Linked DNA regions of Homo sapiens: region 2 is linked to region 1. Evidence: fine-mapped expression QTL. A gene starts in region 1. The other region holds a variant in brackets. All regions are shown on one strand. Distances are between the middles of the regions.

Evidence for each region.
Region 2: its variant is fine-mapped to the expression of PABPC1L in whole blood (TOPMed, PIP above 0.99).

The regions. Positions count from the first base shown.
Region 1 is chr20:44,906,589-44,915,132 of GRCh38, reverse strand. PABPC1L (poly(A) binding protein cytoplasmic 1 like) reads right to left here and starts at 5,073. Exons shown (of 15, transcript NM_001372179.1): 1 at 4,797-5,073; 2 at 2,280-2,473. The coding sequence starts at 4,989. YWHAB (tyrosine 3-monooxygenase/tryptophan 5-monooxygenase activation protein beta) reads right to left here. Exons shown (of 6, transcript NM_139323.4): 6 at 6,601-8,544. RefSeq lists a silencer at 4,890-5,219.
Region 2 is chr20:44,923,997-44,936,341 of GRCh38, reverse strand. It overlaps PABPC1L (poly(A) binding protein cytoplasmic 1 like), which reads right to left. Exons shown (of 15, transcript NM_001372179.1): 7 at 12,086-12,181; 8 at 5,616-5,882; 9 at 3,910-4,000; 10 at 3,157-3,285; 11 at 845-951. Among named protein-coding and RNA genes, the nearest start is that of PABPC1L, 20 kb to the right of the region's middle. The variant G/A (reference allele first, on the strand shown) is at 3,209.

The DNA.
Region 1 (8,544 bases):
AGATCTTGCTTCCAAACCCATGCCTTGCACATACCCCTCCACCTCTCATCCTGAAACAGGGGCCTTCCACTTTCAACTCAAGCCTCAGCTTGGATTTAACCACGTTGACTGGGTCCCCACTGTGGGTCAAGAACCTGCTAAGGGCATTACATACTTCCCTTGTTATCTATGCCAGTCATAAGAGAATCCTTTCAGTCATTTCTTAACCTCTGAGCCCCAGAGGGAAAATGAGAATAAATGACTTGTCCAAGGTCAGCCAACAGAAGTAATTCTTTGATTGTTACAGTTATCACTTAGAAGCTTAACAGTATGCCAGGTACCCTTTTAAGGAGTATACATGTATGCAGAAAACCTAACACACAGAAAGTACATGATAAATCTGCCATTATTATTGTGAAGAACTTAATACACAGTTAAGAGTCTTTCTTCCTTTGATCCTCAAAGACAGGAAACAGCCCCGTCTCTCTGTCACAGATAACCCTTAGTGCATTACTACATCTCCTCAAGTCTACCTGCTCCTCTGAGCCACAGGGATAGCCTCTTATTGACTGGGAATTTGAGAGCCCTCGTTGAGAACTTAAGGATTATGCTTGGCACACAGTAGCACTTGATAAAAGTTCTGACATGCCAGGTGCAGTGGCTCACGCCTGTAATCCCAGCACTTTGGGAGACTGAGGCGGGCGGATCACAAGGTCAGGAGATCGAGACCATCCTGGCTAACACGGTGAAACCCCGTCTCTACTAAAAATACAAAAAAAATTAGCTGGGCGTGGTGGCGGGCACCTGTAGTCCCAGCTACTCAGGAGGCTGAGGCAGGAGAATGGCGTGAACCTGGGAGGAGGAGGTTGCAGTGAGCTGAGATCGCGCCACTGCACTCCAGCCTGGGCAACAGAGTGAGACTCCGTCTCAAAAAAAAAAAAAAAAAAAAGTTCTGACACATAGGCTACAAAAACTGTCCCCATCCTCCCTAGAATAGCAGACACTCCAAAGGCTACGGGGTAACTGATCAACTATCCTTATAAAATCTAGAGACAGAACACCCAGGTTTAAGCCCTCTGTTCCAGACATACTGACCTGCTATATGGCCGCTGATCCTCAACATCCTCATATAAAAAGTCAGAGAAATAATCAGAATCCTTCTCAAATGACATACCTCCACTGGCTCAACATATATTTATTGAGCACCTAATATGTTTCACATCTTATTCTAAGTATTGGGATACAATAATGACTAAGAACAAGATCACTGATGGAACTTACATCTAATGTAAGACAATCTTAAAAACAAGATTCAATAACTTAATTGCCTTGATGGCCCCAATTAATGGCCTTCCTGTAGCCACACCCTTCATCCTATAATTTCTACTCCCCTCTCACTCTGAATGTGGGCTGGTCTTGTGACTTGCTTTGGTCAATAGAATGTAGTGAAAGAGGCCAGGTGCGGTGGCTCATGGCTGTAATCCCAGCATTTTGGGAGGTCAGGAGTTCGAGACCAGCCTGGCCAACACAGTGAAACCCACCCTGTCTCCACTAAACATACAAAAATTATCCAGGCATGGTGGCTCGCACCTGTAATTCCAGCTACTCGGGAGGCTGAGGCAGGAGAATCGTTTGAACTCAGGAGGCTTGAACCCAGGAAGTTGCAGTAAGCTGAGATCATGCCACTGTACTCCAGCCTAGGCAACAGAGTAAGACTGCATCTCAATTAAAAAAAAAAAACGTAGTGGAAGTGATGGTTCCAGTTCTGCATTTAGTTCTCAAGAGGCCTGGTGTGCTTCCACTCTTGTCTTCTGAGCCCCTGCCATTGCCATGAGAATACCATGAGAATAGCCTGGACTAGCCTACTGGAGGACAAAAGGCCATAGGGAGGAAAGCCAAGATGTTCCAGCTGACAGCCAGTCGCTCCCTCATATACCCAGCGAGAGCTCCCACTCAGCTTTCAGTGGGCATAGGAGGGAACCCAGCCAAGACCAGAAGAACTGCCCAGCTGAACTTTGCCCATTGCCAACTGTGGAATTATTAGCTAAATAAATGATTGTTGTTGACGGCCACTAAATTTGAAGGTGGTTACACAGCGAGAGCTGACTGATACACAGGTAATGTCTGGTCATTCACGGAAGATGAAACTGAAAGAACGGCTGTCATTCAGGTGCTTGCTGTACCTGAAACTTGACTGAAAGGACCTTGTAAACTGTAAAGTGAGGTGTTGCTTGTCACCCCTCTACCAGGCAGGTAGTTGACACCGATCTACCCAAAGACGTACACCCTTCATCCTCTACCTTGCAAGAGAGGATGTTCCCAAAGGTGGAGAAGGTATCATATAAAGCCTTGTTGTCAATGGAGTCCTCCAGGTTCTTGATGAAGATGTTGCCCACACCTGACTTGCGAAGTCCTGGGTCTCGCTGGGACCACATGATGCGAATAGGCTGGCCTTTGAGCATCTCAAAGTTCATTGTGTCCAGTGCCCGCTCCGCTGGACAGAAGGAAGAGGAGAGAAATTAGCAAGTTTAGGGAATTTTCTTACCTTGATCACCCACCCCTCGAGGTGCTTAACTGGGAGCCAATAAAGAGAAAGTCATTGTCTGGGTCCCAGACAATAAGCCAAGATAAGAGCCCAAATAACTGAGATAAGAGCCCAAAGGCTCAGGAAGGATAAGCTGAGAATTAGTGTGTATGGTGCTCCCCCAACCTTCCAGTTATGATCTCATTCAACCAACTCCCTGCAGCCACATGAGCATGGATTCCTGCCCCTCATTTTACAGATGGGAAAACTGAGAATAAGAAACATGAAAGGTCTGTGGCAGCGTCAGGTCTATTCTGGATTCTAAAGTACACTGAGTGGATAACAATGTCCATATGACAAGGGGTGGCAGCACTTTGAGGAAATTAAAACTCAGAGGTGCTGCAGGGCAGAGCTGAGGTTAGATCTCAAGCAGTCCGGCTCTGGGGAAAGTGGACATTACCTCTCTGAGCCTGTTCCTCACCTGTAAAGGGGGAATGATGGTAATATTACCTACTTTTCCACACCTAACAAAGGGAGATACTACCAACTACCAGGTTGTTGGAGGGACTGAAAAATAAAGAAGGTATGTAAAAGTGCCTTGTTTGTAACTTTGTGCCTGACACAAAATAATGTCTCAAAACAGCAGCCGATGCCCAGCCTCCGGCCACTGCTGCAGCCTGTGTCTCTCCTGGGTGATACACGTGACCTGTTTCAGGGAGTCTGCTAGTGCAGAGACATGGAAGGGGGCTGTGGGGAACACAGTGGAGCAAGTTTCAGGAAGCCCGGATTCTCCACCTAGTCTTATCATAAATACCTGGGGCAAAACCCTTCTCTCTGCAGCACGGTTTCCAGGCCGAGTCCCACTTCATTCACAGGGCTTGGAGGAAGATGGGAAGAGGCAGGAGGTGGAGCAAAGCAGAACAAACAGAAAAGTGCCCAGGAATCCAGCCCAGTAAGGGGCGGGGAACAGGCCCGGCGGAACAACCCCTTCCCTAGCAAACCACCCACTCAGGCAACCACCAGGTTCACCCAGGCGACCTGGCGCAAGGGATCCCTCTAGTGGACGCCGGCCATTTTTTGGGTGAGTTTCTGGAGTCTTACATCAGAATGTTAAAGCCACTATTTTCGTTGTTGTTTCTTTTTTGTTTGTTGTTTTGTTTTGTGTTGAGATGGAGTCTCGCTCTGTTGCCCGGGCTGGAGTGCAATGGCGCAGTCTCGGCTCACTGCAACCTCTGCCTCCCGGATTCAAGCGATTCTCGTGCCTCAGCCTCCCCAGCAGTTGGGATTACAGGCGTCCGCCATCATGCCCAGCTATTTTTTGTATTTTTAGTAGAGAAAGGGTTTCGCTATGTTGGCCAGGCTGGTCTCGAACTCCTGACCTCAAGTGATCTGCCCACCTCGGCCTCCTAAGATGCTGGGATTACAGGCGTGAGCCACTGCGCCTGGCCTTATTTATTTATTTATTTATTTATTTATTTATTTATTTATTTATTTTAGGTTACCACTTAAGAGCGTTTACGAGGTAACAAGCAGTTACCATTCTTTATGCATAGACAGCAGTTCTCCATTCTTTATGTTATTGGAGAATACGCCTTAGCCCCATTTTGCAGATGAAAAGGTGCAGAGCGTGAAGGCTTGCCCAAGCTCACTCATCCTCTCCACTCTCAACAGAAGTGCAGGCAAACTCATCGGACAAGCTCTAATCAATGCTATCAGCTCTGAGAAAGCGGCCTTGCGGCCTGGAGGCAGCGGTTTTTCAGAGCCCGTGCAGGTAGAGGCGCCCAGTGTGGATCTCACGTCGCGCTGGGAAAGGCCTGAGCCCAAGGCTGGGTTCTCCTGCCTCCCCTGCTCACCAGCTGTGTTGCCTTGGGCATCTTCCTCACCAGGTGCTTTGAATCTCTCATCCTCACAAGCACTCTATAAGGCAGCTAGGACCCCCATTTTCCAGACACGCATCTGAAGCTCAGAATGGTCGAGTAACTTGCCCAGAGTCACACGGCTGCTGGGCTTCTATCCCTGGTCCGCCTGACCCCCACCCCCACCCCCACAAAGCCTGTATCTGTTTTCACTCGACCCTAATCTCTCTCCTCTGTAGAGGAATAGCAGTAAACCACACTAATTACCAATTCCCGTCTCAGGGGCCAGGCCTCTGCCAACGCCCTGTTATCTTTGAGCCTCAGTTTCCCCGGCTGCAAAGTGTAAGATGAAAGCGCAAGCGGCCCAGTTCCGGCTTCTGTCTGTCCGCCTGCTTGTCCGTCGGTCCTTCCCCTCCCGCCCCATCCCCGGGGCTCACCGTCCGCGGGCTGCTGGAAGTTGATGTAGGCGTAGCCCAGCGAGCGCCGGGTGGCTACATCGCGGCACACGCGGATGGACAGGATGGGGCCGGCGGGAGAGAACTTCTCATAGAGCATGGCCTCGGTCACGTCGGGGTGCAGATCGCCCACGTAAAGCGAGGCAAGCGGGTAGCCAGAACCGCTGGCGTTCATGGTGGGCAGGGGGCCGGGGCTGCGGGGCAAGCAGGAGCCGGGTCACCCAGCAGCCCCGCGCTCACCCGGGCGGAAGCCCTCCTTCCTGGGCGCGGGCCCGCCCCTTCCCTTTACCGCCCCCGCGTCCCTGCGCACCAATCGTGGGCGCGCTCGGACGCCCCTCCCCCGGGATCCCTCCTGGGCCCACCCCCCACCTGCGAGCACTTGGGGATCTAAAAGCTACAGGTGGGGACACCTCTGACCCCGCCCTGGGAGGCGGAAAAAGCCTTCAACCTGGCCTTGAGCAGGGCTGCTGGGACTTGAGTGGAGCTCTCAAAACCCCCAGCTCTTTTGAAAGAGCCGAGGACTGGGACGGAAAGGACGCAGGGGACTGAGTTCTAACCCCGGAACAGATGATCATCTTTCTGAACCCGTTTCCCTTCTCTGTAAAATGGGAATGATTCCCTCCTGACAAGAATGAAAGGAGACCCAAACCGCGCTTTTTGCGTTTCACACACAAACGGAATTCCGAACAGGCCACTGTTTCAAAGCTTGTGTAGAGAATTTTACCCTGCTCCATTGAAGATGTCTTCCTCCAGAGAGCCTGATCCAGTCCCACCGTTTCGCACCAAGGATGGAAATGGCTTTGAGACATGAGAACTGGAGACCACTAAGGCCTTTCTTGGTACTGGCTCATATTACCAAGACCCCTTTTCCTGGGATATTCCCTGTCCCTCTGCTAAGCCATTACACATCCATTACACCAGGGAGGTTCACTGAGTTACTTGTGGCTCAGCCTAAATGCGGACAATTGGGAACTAATAGCAGAGCAAGACCTAAACAGAGCAAGACTGTGAATCTGAGCTTGCAGCGTCAATCTGTGGTATAGGGACATTAAAAACAACACAAAAACAAAACAACTACTCCACTGAGCACCAATACTTCACTTTTCCTCTGATAGGACTTTCCTGGTCTCACTGATCCAACAGAGCAGGTAGGCCCCCACTGACTTTTGGTTGAGTGTGGCTTCAACAGGTGGAACAGCTCCTAAACTAGGGACAGAAGGTGCCCATCTGGCTGTCCAGCCTCAGAGTAGCAAGGAAGCACTAATTCTAATCTTGGGCTAAAAAAGACCCCTCTATCCTGATATTTTTCTCTCCTTGTGGTAATGTGGATGTTTTCAGAAGGGGCAAATCCTGTGAGGAACCAGCTCTGCAGGCCACCATACAGTGTGAGGACAGGTGAGACGCCAGCTTGGTGATGACCAAGACTTATGCAACCATAGGTTACCTATTTCACTGGCTTGGTTGTATCTCAGAGTTAAAAAATGGGGAAGGGATGGTGGGCTCGAATACAATGCAAAATAACTGTCCATACCAAATCTTAGAAGTCACTAAAGAGGACCTAATACCTGCATGGTTTGTTGTGGAAGGTAGAGAGGTATCAAGTAACGGGTGTAAAGAGGCTGTTTAATTAATGGTAATTTCTTCCCCTGGATAACACCTTGACTTCTGGTCCTAAATAATGAAATAAAACTGTTTGCCTATTTTTAAAGAAAACAGAGTTAAAAATAAGTGTGATCAGAATAGTTAGCTAGGTCTGGTAACAACAGAGATGGTGGTGACACATCAATTCACAGGCAACTAACTGATAAAATTTTTATTTCACTTTTGAATTTTTACACTTTTCCTGATTATTCTGTGTAAGGTGAAACTAGAACTGTTTAAAAGACATACACAAATCTAGTACATCAATAACCGGGGATTTTTCTTTTTTGCTATACTATTTTCACAACCACGGGTGTGCTTGCTAGGCAATATAACCATCACAGAAGCAAACGTTAGGCAGAATACTGGTAAGAAAAAACAAAGCAAGAAAAGAGCTACCAGATATACAGACAGGCTTGGTTCCACATTCACTACTGCATTTTCAAGCGCCAAGTATTAACTGCACATTTTTGTTCAGCTAGAAAGGAGGGATTTTTTTTTTTGTTTTTTTCTTTTTTTTTGGTTTGTTTTAAATCAGTGCATAAATTTTTCTTTTCTCATTTCAGCAGATGGACAAACAGATGGACTCTACAGCTAAGTGGAATATCAAAGGTAGAGGGGTGATTCTGTGAGACTGATAGGCCTGACTATTCTCAATTCTCCCCACTGCAGTGTTCACGCAACTTCCCTGAATATAGGGTCTCCTTAAACACATCTGAGCACTGACCTGGATGAGTGCACTTGGGAGACCTGGTGACAGGCACAAAAAGCATGATCAGGGCTAGCCTCAATACAGGGAGAAATCATGGATATTTAAAAATACTTTTTTGATTCAGATTCCGGTATGACTGAAGAGCAACACCGTGTTGAGAACTGGAGGAAGACAGGGTTCTGGTGCCAGAAGCTCTTCTCCAATCTTTAAAGCCAGGCTTGCTCACCAAGGTGCTCAGTAATGTCTCTCACCCCTGCCCATATATAGCATTAAAAAGTGAACAAAAGACAGATAAAGATAGAATTCAAAAAGGAAAAAAAGTAAGGAAGCAGAGGGACAGAAACTTAGAAGAGAAAACCAAGGTCAACAGTCAAAAAGGATGGTGGGAAAGAATGTTTAGATTTCAAAATTTAAAAGCCCCGAGCTAGGAAGAACCTGAAAACTGAGTACTCCTCAAGTGAAAGGCCATCTCTACAGAACATCATTCCTTTTTTTGTTTTTTGTTTTCTTTTTTGGAGATGAGGTCTCGCTATGTTGCCCAGGCTGGAGTGCAGTTATTCACAGGTGCAACCACAGGGCACTGCAGCTTTAAACTCCTGGGCTCAAGCGATCCTCCTGCCTCAGCCTCCCAAATAGTTGGGACTAGATGCACGCACCACCACGCCTGACTCAGGACATTATTCTTAAAGGTATTATCCAGGAAACAGATAAGGTCATTCATAAAACACACGGCTTTTTTTCTTTAGCTCAGTGTTAACAATGAAAGTAGATTCCACTATTGAAGCACAAGTTGCAAATTGGTAACATAGTGAACATATTGCTGTAGGAAAGGGGGTTCAGTGTGGTGTGTTATATGAGCACTTGAACTTTTCAAGGTGTCATAAGCCAGTTATCTGCCACAAAGAATTTCCATTTCAGGATTCGAGTTTCCTCAGAGGAAGACACTGTGGACATTTGTGGTCATGAACTTTTAAGTGGCAACAGCCCAAACAGGTCAAGTGTCTTTAAGTCCCGAACAACGGCAGCATTACTGTGAATTACCATTCAACTCAAATGCCAAATGATGTGTGTCTCACTCCAAGTTCCAGCATCACAATATAATCTCTATAACTTTCTGTACAACTTTACAATGGAATTGTATTTCAATGATTATTTTGATATCAGATTAAACCTTCCAAAAAGTTACACATAATTCAGGTCTATTTTTTCTACCAGTAAGAGTTCTGCTAAATTACAAAACCCCATAATCACAGTGTTCAGTTTTTAAAAAATTAAACACACAGTAATCCTGTCAATGTTAATCAAAATCAAAACTTCGGAATGCCGTGGCATTTATGTGACCAATCTGAGTTTTAGATACAAATACCAGCTGTTTAT
Region 2 (12,345 bases), 19 kb before region 1:
TTTTATCAAGTAGATTTATGGACATGTCCCCGGCACACCTCTCACCCTTTCACATCTTGGTAATTTTAAAACATTTTGGCCAGGTGTGGTGGCTCACACCTATAATCCTAGAACTTTGGAAGGCCAAAGTGGGAGGATCGCTTGAGGCCAGGAGTTTGAGATCAGCCTTGGCAACATAATGAGACCCCTGTCACTACAAAAAAATACACAAAATTAACCAGGCATGGTGTCACATGCCTGTACTTGGAGGCTGAGGTGGGAGGATCACTTGAGCCTAGGAGTTCAAGGCTGCAGTGAGCTATGATCACACCACTGCACTCTAACCTGGGTGCTGTCAAAAAAAAGACCCTGTCCAAAAAAAAAAATAGACATTTTTGCTGTTTAAAGACTGTTCTCATTCATTTTGCAGGAAATAGTTCAAAAGAGACACATTGAAATTCTACACAGGATATGATAATGCTGAATTTTAGGCCTTTTTTAGGGGAGGGAGATAAATACACAGTCTTTGATTACAGTAAGTATTTTCTGTTTTGAAGATTAAGTACATCCCTTCAATAATCAGCATATTCTTAGAATACCTTTCCTTGGTGTTCATCACAAATACTAAGGATATCCAAATTAATTTTGGTAATAACCGAAGCAAAACAAATTGTAAATAAAACGTAATGCTGGCCCTCTTTCCCCTTCTCGCAGTAAGGGTGATCTCTTATTGATTGTACACATTAATAAACGAAACTTTACAAGCCAAGAAAAGAAAAAAAGCCAAGGCCCAACACCTTAGCTAAGGTTCTGAGCCAGGCGGCCAGGAGCCCAGGCTAAGAGCAGGCAGCTGGGCTGGCCTTACCCGATAGGTGCTATGTGCTGCTGAGGAACATTTGCACGGCAGGAGCGGCCGGCCTGGTGTACAGCATCCTACCCCACTGGGTCCTGTGGTCTGAGTACCAATGTTGGCTGCAAAACAAAACAAAACAAAACAAAAAAAGCAGAGTTCAAATAGCTGCTATCCAAAAACAAAACAAAACAAAACAACACCAAAACAGAAAATAACAAGCGTTGACAAGAATGTAAAGAAATTAGAAGACTGTGCACTGTTGGTAGGAATGTAAAATGATGTAGCCACTACAGAAAAACAGTATAGGGCTTTCTCAAACAGTTAAACAGAATTACCATATCATCCATCAATTTTACCTCTGGGTATATACCCAAAAGAATTGAAAGCAGGGTTTCAAAGAGCTATTTGTACAAACATTTTCTTTCTTTTTTTTTTTTTTCCTGAGACAGAGTCTTGCTCTGTCACCCAGGCTATAGTGCAGTGGTGTTATCTCGGCTCACTGCAACCTCCCCCTCCTGGGTTCAATCAATTCTCTTGTCTCAGCCTACCAAGTAGCTGGGATTACAAGCACATGCCACCACGTCCGGCTAATTTTTGTATTTTTAGTAGAGACAGGGTTTCACCATGTTGGTCAGGCTGGTTTCGAACTCCTGACCTCATGATCCACCTGCCTCAGCCTCCCAAAGTGCTGGGATTACAGGCGTAAGCCATCACGCCCAGCCTGCACAACCATTTTCACAGCAGCATTATTCACAATACCCAAAGGGTAGAAAAGTGTCCATTGATAGATGAATGAATAAGTAAAAATGAGGTCTATACATACAATGGAATATTATTTAGCCTTAATAAGGAGATTCTGACACACGCCACAACATAGATACATCCTGAGACATGTAAAGTAAAAAAACTAGCCACAAAAAGACAAATACTCTATGATTCTACTTACATGAGGTACCAAGCAAGAACAGTCAAATTCACAGAGACAAAGTAGAATGGCAGTTGCCAAGGGCTAGCGGGAGGAGGAACGAGAAGTTATGGTTTGATGGGTACAGAATTTCGGCTCTACAAGCTGAACAGAGTTCTGGAGAGTGGATGGTGGTGACAGTGCACAACAGTGTGAATATACTTAATGCCATTGATCTGTACACTGAAAAATAGTTAAGTGGTAAATTTTGTTATGTGTATTTTACCACAATAAAAAGGAATAAGCAGGGGTGTCAGGGCCTGGCAGCAACCTAAGGCCAGAGACTGAGTATACCTCGTTCACGCAGAACCTCCAGTGCTGAGCTTGGGGCCCCAGCACACTGTGGATGTGAGAACATTTGCAGAATGAAAGAACAGATGTGCTTGCTGTACAGCCAAAACCTACACCCTTGTTTATAGTCACTGCAATACTTACCAGGCTTTAGGCCCAGTGCTAAGCCCTTTCATGCATGATCTCATTGATCCTCAACAACAAGCCGGGCATGGTGGCTCATGCCTGTAATCCCAGCACTTTGGGAGGCCGAGGCTGGTGGATCACCTAAGGTCAGGAGTTCGAGACCAGCCTGGCCAACATGGTGAAACCCTGTCCCTACTAAAAATACAAAAATTAGCCAAGTATGGTGGCGCATGCCTGTAATCCCAGCTACTCAGGAGGCTGAGGCAGGAGAATCGCTTAGAACCCCGGAGGCAGAGGTTGCAGTGAGCCGAGATCACACCATTACTCTCCAGCCTGGGCGACAGAGCAAGACTCGATCTCAAAAAAAAAAAAAAAAAAAATTAAGGCTGGGCACAGTGGCTCATGCCTGTAATCTCAGCACTTTGGGAGGCTGAGGTGGGCGGATCACCTGAGATCAGGAGTTCAAGACCAACCTGACCAACATGGAGAAACCCCGTCTCTACTAAAAACACAAAATTACCCAGGCATGGTGGCGCATGCCTACAATCCCAGCTACTTGGGAAGCTGAGGCAGGACAATCGCTTGAACCTGGGAGGCGGAGGTTGCAGTGAGCAGAGATCATGCCATTGCACTCCAGCCTGGGCAACAAGAATGAAATTCTGCCTCAAAAAGAAAAAAAAAAACATTTAAATTCTCTACAATAAAATGGGGGTACTATTTTTGTCCCCATTTTAAAGATTAGGTGACAGATATAGTAGTCAGCAAGGGCCTCATAGTCAGTTGGTCCCAGGAACTGGAGGCCAAGCTAACTACCACGCTACAGTCTCCAAAGTCAGCTTTGCTCACCGAGAGGGCATATGGCAAGGTCACCATGGAGGCTGGTCCTGACTCCTAGTGCCAACTTTGCCCCACCCCCATTCCCCTTGGCCCTACCCACACTCACCTACTCTCTGGGTATGAGGCACCGTGCGTGGCACCTGGGTGGAGGCCTGCCT[G/A]ACACTGCTGATGTGGGCCGGGGGGCGCCGAGGCACAACTGGTGGCCGGACCATTGAGGCACCTGGAGGGTAGGCAGCTTGTGGTGCAGACACCACAGAGAGAGAAAAGTTGGATGGAGTGGTGGGAATAATCAGGGTGGCACACTGTGCCTAGAAGCTTCCAGGGCCACCAAGAGAATGGGAAGGGAAACTACAACATTCACAACAGAAATAGGAGTCAATTCACTTAGACCCAGAACTCCAGAAAGGGGGAGTGTAGGAATCTACAATTTCAAAGCCAGCTCGTGTCTACCTAGAGCCCCAAACTGCATAAGCACCAGGATTGTACACCTTAGTCCCTCAAGATAGTTTCAAGTGAGCGTGCAATTCACTCTTACAGAGGAGGGCCTTTGGTCAACAATATAGCCAGAGGAATTTCACCTTCTCAGCTTTGCAAGAATTTTCAGAGTCACAAATCAGAGGCATCTTTGGTGATGACTGCTGGTGGCTAGCTGCGTGTCTTCCATTGGCTCACCACTGTGCTTGGTACTTTACACACGTCTCATTCAGGCCCATGCTCAGAAGAGGAAACTGAGGCTCAGAGAAGTGAAGTCACCCACCTTGGGAAGTGGCAGAGCCAGGTTTCATCCCTGTGTTATGACTGCCTCACGGGGCCCACACCAATAGGCCAGTCTGAGAGTGGAAGGGGCTGGGTCACTCACAGGAAGGTCTAGGTGGCTGGGATGTCCACCTGGGGGCAGGCTGGGTGGGTGTCACTGGGCCACAGCCATAGTATGCAGCCTGGGCTGGAGGCTGCATGGGAAAAGAAGACCCAGACTGAGGGGCTTGGCGGCAGGGTAGGTGAGAAGCTACACCTCCTCAGGGACACCATGGCAGGAACTCCACTGGCTCCTGCAGGGACTGGTGAGTCAAGACCCACAAGGCTGTAATGAAAGCTCCTTCCTCCCATCTCAGGATGTCCATTAGCCCTGAATCCTGCAGGGCAAAGATCTTAGATTTCAATCTTGGCTCCCTGTCAGCTAACCCAATGACCTGGATAAAAAGGGTGACATCTTACTCCAACTTGTGCAGCTTAAGCAACTGCTAAAAGGAGAGGAATGTTCTTACCGTGGTGGCCTTTAATGGGTGACATCTTTCTACTTCCTGTAAGTCCCACGAGGTCCTTTCCCAAACCATGCTCCTCAGAACATTAACATCCAGGGGAGATGTTAACAGGCATCCCACAAAAAAATGACCATCTAAGCTGGGGAAATGCTGGATAATCTGTGCCTGTTTTGGAGAGTCTCAGTAGACATTGGCATCTTAGGGTAGAATAGTGTAGATAGTAAAGAAATTTAGGGCCGATCATGGTGGCTCATGCCTGTAATCCCAGCACTTTAGGAGGTCAAGGAGGGCACATCACTTGAGGTCAGGAGTTCAAGACCAGCCTGGCCAACATGGTGAAACCCCGTCTCTACTAAAAATACAAAAAATTAGCTGAGTGTGGTGGCACGCACCTGTAATCCCAGCTACCCGGGAGGCTGAGGCACAAGAATCACTTGAACCCAGGAGGAAGAGTTTGCAGCGAGCCAAGATGGTGTCACTGCACTCCATTCTGGGCAACAGAGCAAGACTCTGTCTCCAAAAAAATAAAAATTTAATTTTTAAAAAAATGTAGGGCGGGGGACGGTGGCTTACTCCTGTAATGCCAGCACTTTGGGAGGCCAAGGCAGGAGAATTGCTTGAGCCCAGGAGTTTGAGACCAGCCTGGGCAACATGGCGAGACCCCTTCTTTAAAATAAACAAAAAAATTAGCTGGGCATGGTGGCACACACCTGTAGTCCCACCTACTCAGGAGGCTACAGTGGGAGGATCACTCAAGCCCAGGAATTCAAGGCTGCAGTGAGCCATGATCATGCCATTGCTCTCCAGCCTGGGTGACATGGAGACCCCGTGAAGGAAGGGAGGAAGGGAGGAAGGGAGGGAAGAAGGAAGGAGCCATGATCACGCCATTGCTCACCAGCCTGGGTGACATGGAGACCCCACGAAGGAAGGAAGGAAGGAAGGGAGGGAGGGAGGGAGGGAGGGAGGGAAGGGAAGGGAAGGGAAGGGAGGGAAGGGAGGGAAGGGAGGGAAGGGAAGGAAGGGAGGAAGGAAAAATGTAGGTCTTGCTTAACGCAGCATTTCCCAAACTTGCTGGATCATTAAGAGTCTTTTTCAGCACAACATTCACGAGCTTCTCTCACTGGGAAATGCCATTTGACTAACACTATCTCTCCCTTTTATAGAGAGGGAAACAAAGACTTCCTAATGAGTCCTCGGCAGAAGCAAGTTAGAAACCTCCATTTCCCTAGAACTCTAGTCTTCATGCTCTGCCTTGCTGGGGCAGGGGGGAAGGCTGCGGTGGGAGTTGCGGGCAGGCCGTCACCTGGGGCATGGCAGGCAGGAAGTAGCTGGAGGGCTGCTGAAAGGAGCCCAGGAGGGGGTTGCTCAGGGTCCGCATGGTGGAGAGGCGCTGCATGTACTGGTTGGTCAAGATGGCCTTCCGCTCCTCTTTGCGCTGGGCCAGTGCCACGTAGAGTGGCTTGGTGCCCACGATGCGCCCGTTCATCTCTGTCACGGCCTTTGTCGCCTCTTCTGGGGAGGAAAAACACACAAAGCCAAACCCCTTGCTGTGGCCACCCTCTGTCATCACCTAAAAGCAAGACAAGACAAGAGCTGCTGGGGTGGGGAAGGAAGGCTCCTGGGGCTGCGCTGCCTCCCTCCTCCCCATGGGCTAAGCCCAGCACTGGGCAGGCCCGCGAGAAAGCTGTGATGGAGGGATGTAGCGTGCACCCCTGTTTACTAAGCTGTGTTCGAGGGATGTAGTGTGCACCCCCGTTTAGCAAGCTGTGATGGAGGGATGTAGCGTGCACCCCCATTTACTGAGGAGTGATGGAGGGATGTAGCGTGCACCCTGTTTACTGAGCTGTTTGAGGGATGCAGCACGCACCCCCATCTATGAGGCCTGCTGCATGCCAGATACTTTACATGTCTTCACACCTCACATGTACAACCTCCCGATGCGGGAGGCATCGCGGCTCCCACTTTACAGCCGGGATAAGAGAGACTCGAAAGAGTGACTTGTCTGGGGTCACTCAGCCTGTGGTTCATACGTTAGCCAGGACTCAACCCAACACATTGTTCTGGTAAGCTTCTATCGCCTCTGCTAAGTACCAAGCCAAGTTCTTTAGGAATTTGGGGAAGAGGTTCTTAGCCTTTTTGTTAAAATAACCTTTTTACTTTGGAGTAACTTTAGATTTACAGAAAAAGTTACAAAAACAGTACAGAGGGTTGCTATATATCTTTTTTTTTTTTTTTGAGACATAGTTTCACTCTGTCACTCAGGCTAGAGTGGAGTGGCACGATCTCGGCTAACTGCAACCTCAGCCTCCCGGGTTCAAGCAATTCTCCTGCCTTAGCCTCCTGGGTAGATGGGACTACAGGCGTGTGCCACCACACCTGGCTAATTTTTGTATTTTCAGTAGAGAGAGGGTTTCACCATGTTGGCCAGGCTGGTCTCAAACTCCTGACCTCAAGTGATCTGCCTGCCTCAGCCTCCCAAAGTGCTGGGATTACAGGCGTGAGCCACCATGCCTGGCCTGCTGTATATCTTTCACCCAGTTTCCCCCAATGTGAACATGGTACATTTTTCAAAACTACAAAATTAACACTGGTGCAATGCTATTAACTATTTTATACCATTAGCTCCTATTAACTACAATGCTATTAACTGAACTCCAGACTTCACTGGAATTTCACTCTTTTTTCCCCTAATATTCTTTTTCTCTTCCAGGATCCAACCCACATGGCATTTAGGGTTTGTCTTTTTGTTTATTTGTTTGTTTTTTAAAGAGATGGGGTCTCACTCTGTCATCCAGGCTGGAGTGCAGTGGTATGATCATAGCTCACTGCAGCCTCAAACTCCCGGGCTCCAGGGATCCTCCTGCCTCAGCCTCTCAAGTAGTTAGGGCTATAGGTACATGCCACCACACCCAGCTAATTTTTTTTTTTAAGTTTGTAGAGATCAGCAATCACTATGTTGCCCAGGCTGGTCTCAAGAGATCCTCCTACCTAGGTCTCCCAAGGTGCAGGGATTACAGGCAGGAGCCACCACACCTGGCCCTGGGTTTTTAACCTTTTTTTAGGGTGAAGACACCGGCCTGGCTCATACAGCCCATAAGGACTAGAGTTATTTTTAAAATCTTCTTTTTTTCCTTTTTTTTTTTCTTTTTTTTTTTTTTTTTTTTTGAGTCAGGATCTCACTCTGTCACTCAGGCTGGAGTGCAGTGGTGCAATCTCAGCTCAACTGCACCCTCAACCTCTCAGCCTCAAGTGATCCTCTCAACTCAGTCTCCCAAGTAGCTGGGACTGCAGACAAGCACCACCATGCCTAATTTTGTTCATTTTTTGTAAAGATGAGGTCTCATCCTGTTGCCCCGGCTGGGCTTGAACTCCTGGTGAGCCCACGCTCTTAATCAGTAATTTTGAAACTGTACTCTGCTACCCTTCAGTAGAGGGGTCTTAACCTGAGAGTCCATGGATCCCCCTCAGGTAGGTCATGGATACAATTTAGGGGGAAATTGCATGGATTGGGGAAAAAGTGACATCTTTATTTTCATATTAGCATTTCCTTCTATTATGAATATGGGCAACAACAAAAAAATCCTGGCAGTATTAGCCATGAATTTGTCATGAAGAAAAAGAAAATATTTTCATATCACATTAATTATTGCTAATCTCAGCCGAGCGCAATGGCTTATGCCTGTAATCCCAGCACTTTGGGAGGCCAAGGTGGGCAGATCACCTGAGGTCAGGAGTTCGAGACCAGCCTGGCCAACATGGTGAAACCCCATCTCTACTAAAAATATACAAAAATTAGCTGGTTATGGTGGCGGGTGCCTGTAATCTCAGCTTCCCAGGAGGTTGAGGCAGAACCCAGGTTCTTGAACCTGGGAGGCAGAGGTTGTAGTGAGCCAAGATCATGCCACTGCGCTCCAGTCTGGGCGACAGAGTGGGACTTCGTCTCAAAAAAATAAAAATAAAAATAATAAAAGAAGCACATACTGCTTTCACTTTAGTATTTTGACCATTATATTTTTTCAGTATGATTTTTTTGTACACCTAAGAATCTTATTTTATGCATTTAAAAATATTCTTAGGGCCAGGTTTGGTGGCTCATGCCTATTTTTGGGAAGCAGAGGCGGAAGAATTGCTTGAGCCCAGGGGTTTGAGACCAGCCTGGGTAATATAAAAAATAATTATCCAGGCATAGTGGTGCTCCTATAGTCTCAGCTACTTGGGAGGCTGAGACAGGAGATCACTTGAGGCCAGGAGTTGGAGGCTGCAGTGAGCTGTGATGGCACCACTGCATTCCAGCCTGGGTGATAGAGCGAGACTCTGTCTCAAAAAAGTTTTTAAAAAATATTCTTAGAAGGGTTCCACAGGCTTCATCAGATAGCCAAAGGGCCGGGCACAGTGGCTCACGCCTGTAATCCTAGCACTTTGGGAGGCTGAGGCAGGTGGATCACCTGAGGTCAGAAGTTCGAGACCAGCCTGGCCAAAATAGTGACACCCCATCTCTACTAAAAATACAAAAAATTAGCTGGGCATGGTGAGAGGCGCCTGTAATCCCAGCTACTCAGGAGGCTGAAGCAGGAGAATCACTTGAACCCAGGAGGCAAAGGTTACAGTGAGCTAAGATTGCACCATTGCACTCTAGCCTGGGCAACAAGAGCAAAACTCCATCTCAAAAAAAAAAAAATATATATATATTGTTAAGAACTTCTGGCAGTCGGTAGTTAATAATGATAAAATTTAGCAAAGCTAACACTTATGCAGAGCTTACCATGAACTTGATAGTGGTATAAGTATTTATATCCATTAATTCCTTTAATTTTCATAATTATTTTTATATAAAACAAAATACAGGCCAGATGCAGTGGCTCATGCCTATAATCCCAGCACTTTGGGAGGCTGAGGTAGGAGGACTGCTTGAGCCCAGGAGTTCAAGACAAGCCTGGACAACACAGCAAGACTCCCAATTTCTACCAAAAAAAAATTTTTTTTTAAATCAGCTGGGCATGGTGGCACATGCCTGTGGTCCCAGCTACTTAGGAGGCTCAGGTGGGAGGATCACTTGAGCCCAGGAGGTTGAGGTTGTGGCGTGCCATGATCACATCATGGCCCTCCAGCCTGGGCAACAGAATAAGAACCTGCATCTAATAAAAAATAATAATAAACCAAAATATATAAAATCGCATAACATAGGCCAGGCACAGTGGTTCACGCCTATAATCTCAGCACTTTGGGAGGCCAAGGCGGGCAGATCACCTGAGGTCAAGAGTTCAGGACCATCCTGGCTAACATGGTGAAACCTCATCTTTACTAAAAATACAAACATTAGTAGGGCTTGGTGGCGGGCGCCTGTAATCCCAGCTACTCAGAAGGCTGAGGCAGGAGAATTGCTTGAACCTGGGAGGCAGAAGTTGTAGTGAGCCAAGATCGCGCCATTGCACTCCAGCCTGGGCGACAAGAAGGAAACTCTATCTCAAAATAAATAAATAATTGTATAATATATATATATATGTAGGCTGGGCGTGGTGGCTCATTCTTGTAATTGCAGCACTTTGGGAGGCTGAGGCGGGCGGATTACTAGGTCAGGAGTTTGAGACCAGCCCGGCCAACACAGTGAAACCCCGTCTCTACTAAAAATACAAAAATTAGCTGGGCATGGTGGCAGGTGCCTGTAATCCCAGCTACTCAGGAGGCTGAGGGAGAAGAATCACTTGAACCCGGGAGGCGGAGGTTGTAGTGAGCCGAGATGGCGCCACTGCACTCTAGCCTGGGCAACAGAGCTAGACTCCATCACACACACAAAAAATAGATATATTTATAATCCCCATTTTATACCGTTTGTCCTGTTAAAAAGATGGTCACCCCAGGTGTGCCTTAACTCTAAGCAATCCAAATTTACACATTTCCTTTGTTCGGGGAGTCCTCAAGAAGGTCCATCTCCTGAAGCTGTATGCAAGGTGTATGATGAATCATTACGACAATCACTATTTCACTACTTATTGAATGCAGATGCTGTACATGCAGCCTCTTTAGTAGTTCTTAGGACACCTGGAGAGGTGAGAAATGTTGCTCCCACTTTATAGGTGAGTAAACAAGGTCCGAAAAGCAAAGCCACTTGCCTCAGTTTCTACAGCTAGGTAATGGTAGGACTGGGGTTTACATTTAAACCTGATTAACTTTAAAATTCCAGCTTTCAACCATGTTTCTACATCAAATGTATATGCATTTGCTTGGAAAGAGGACCTATAGCTTTTTATGATGTGTAATCAAATTTACTGATGCCTAATTTACATGTGCCACAGCCTTCTCTCGCATTTTTCAAAAGGATCTTAACCTAAAAGACAACCTTTTTTCCTCCAAACACAAGGCTCCCTGAAGGATGTTTACAACTGGACTCAGTAGCCAAAAGAGAACTTCTAGACCACTTCCTCAGAACCCAACATCACATCATTCAGGCGGGTCCCCCCATCCTGTCACTCACACTGATCTCTTTGGAAAATTCCTCATTCCCACTCCAGCTCCCTACCTCCTCACAGCCAAGTCAAACACTGCTGCTACTGCCACTTCTTCCAGGCAGCCTTCCCTTCTGTTCCACTGAACTCCTGTAGCTTTGCCTCCCATACTGTCCCCCATCTTATAATCCATTTGAGTTAGTGACGGGCTGACTTCCTCACTAGACTATAAGCTACTTGAAAGCAAGGATCACATCTGATTTGCTCCTGTTTCCCACAGAGCCTGGTAAAACAGCAGGTATTTAAGTATAGAATGAAGAAACACTGGATCATCATCTTAAAAACCATCTGGGCGCTTTTTTTTTTTTTTTTTTTTGAGACAGAGTCTCGCTGTTGCCCAGGCTGGAGTGCAGTGGCACGATCTTGGCTCACTGCAAGCTCCGCCTCCTGGGTTCATGCCATTCTCCTGCCTCAGCCTCCGGAATACCTGGGACTATAGGCACGTGCCATCATGCCCGGCTAATTTTTTGTATTTTTAGTAGAGATGGGGTTTCACCGTGTTAGCGAGGATGGTCTCGATCTCCTGACCTCATGATCTGCCTGCCTCAGCCTCCCAAAGTGCTGGGATTACAGGCGTGAGCCATATTGCCCAGCCTCTGGGAGCTTTAAAAAAAAAAAATAAAAAGCCCAGGCCCTACCCCGGGGATCCACATTCTATGCCTGACTGAGGTGTGTGTATTTAAGAATTGCCCAGGGGGTTGTAATGAGAAGCCAGGGTCGGAAAGCCATCCAGTGAGCCCAGTGTCCTTATCTATAAGACAACATCTGCTAAAGCTCATAGAGCTGCTGATGGGCCAGTTGCCACATCTCAGGGGCCTAACAGGGTTGGGCACACAATTGGTGCTCCAGAAATAGGGAAGAACAAATGAAGAATGACGAAGTCCAGCCCTCTCACTTTCCAGATGGGAAAACGGAGGCCCAGGAGGGTAATGTCACTGGCAGAGGCCAGACAACAAAAGTCAATGGAAATACTAAGATATGAATTTCTGGAATCTGGCATACAGTAGGCACTCAATAAATGCCAAGGTGACAGTGAGCCCCAAGTCCAGCTGTGTGACTGGGACTATATTTCTACCCTCTTCCCCTCCAGCCCAGACAAGGCTGCAGATGGCTACAAGCTCCAACGGGGTCAGCAGAGCCCCAGAAGGGGTAGCCGGCACCAACCCCCTGAAGGCTGCTGGGCGAGAGGGTGGAGGGGTGGGGTTGTGGGGGGATGGTGGTGAGAGGATGGAGGGGAACGCTGTCCCCCGGAGGTGCCCCCAGTCCTCACCTTCGCACTGGTAATTACTCCATAGGGAGAGAACTCTTTCCTCAGTTTGTCGTCATCAATGGAGTCGTCCAGATTCTTCACATACAAGTTCACACCCTGGGATGGAAGGGAAACTGCTGGATGTCCCCTTCTCCTCCAAGCCCCAACTGCCTTGGGGAGATCAGGGAACTGACGCAGGTACAAGGGGCATGGGGAGCCCCACCAGCCCAGCCTCCTGCTCCCCGTCTCCCTCAGCACCCAGGTACCCCCATCCCTCAGCG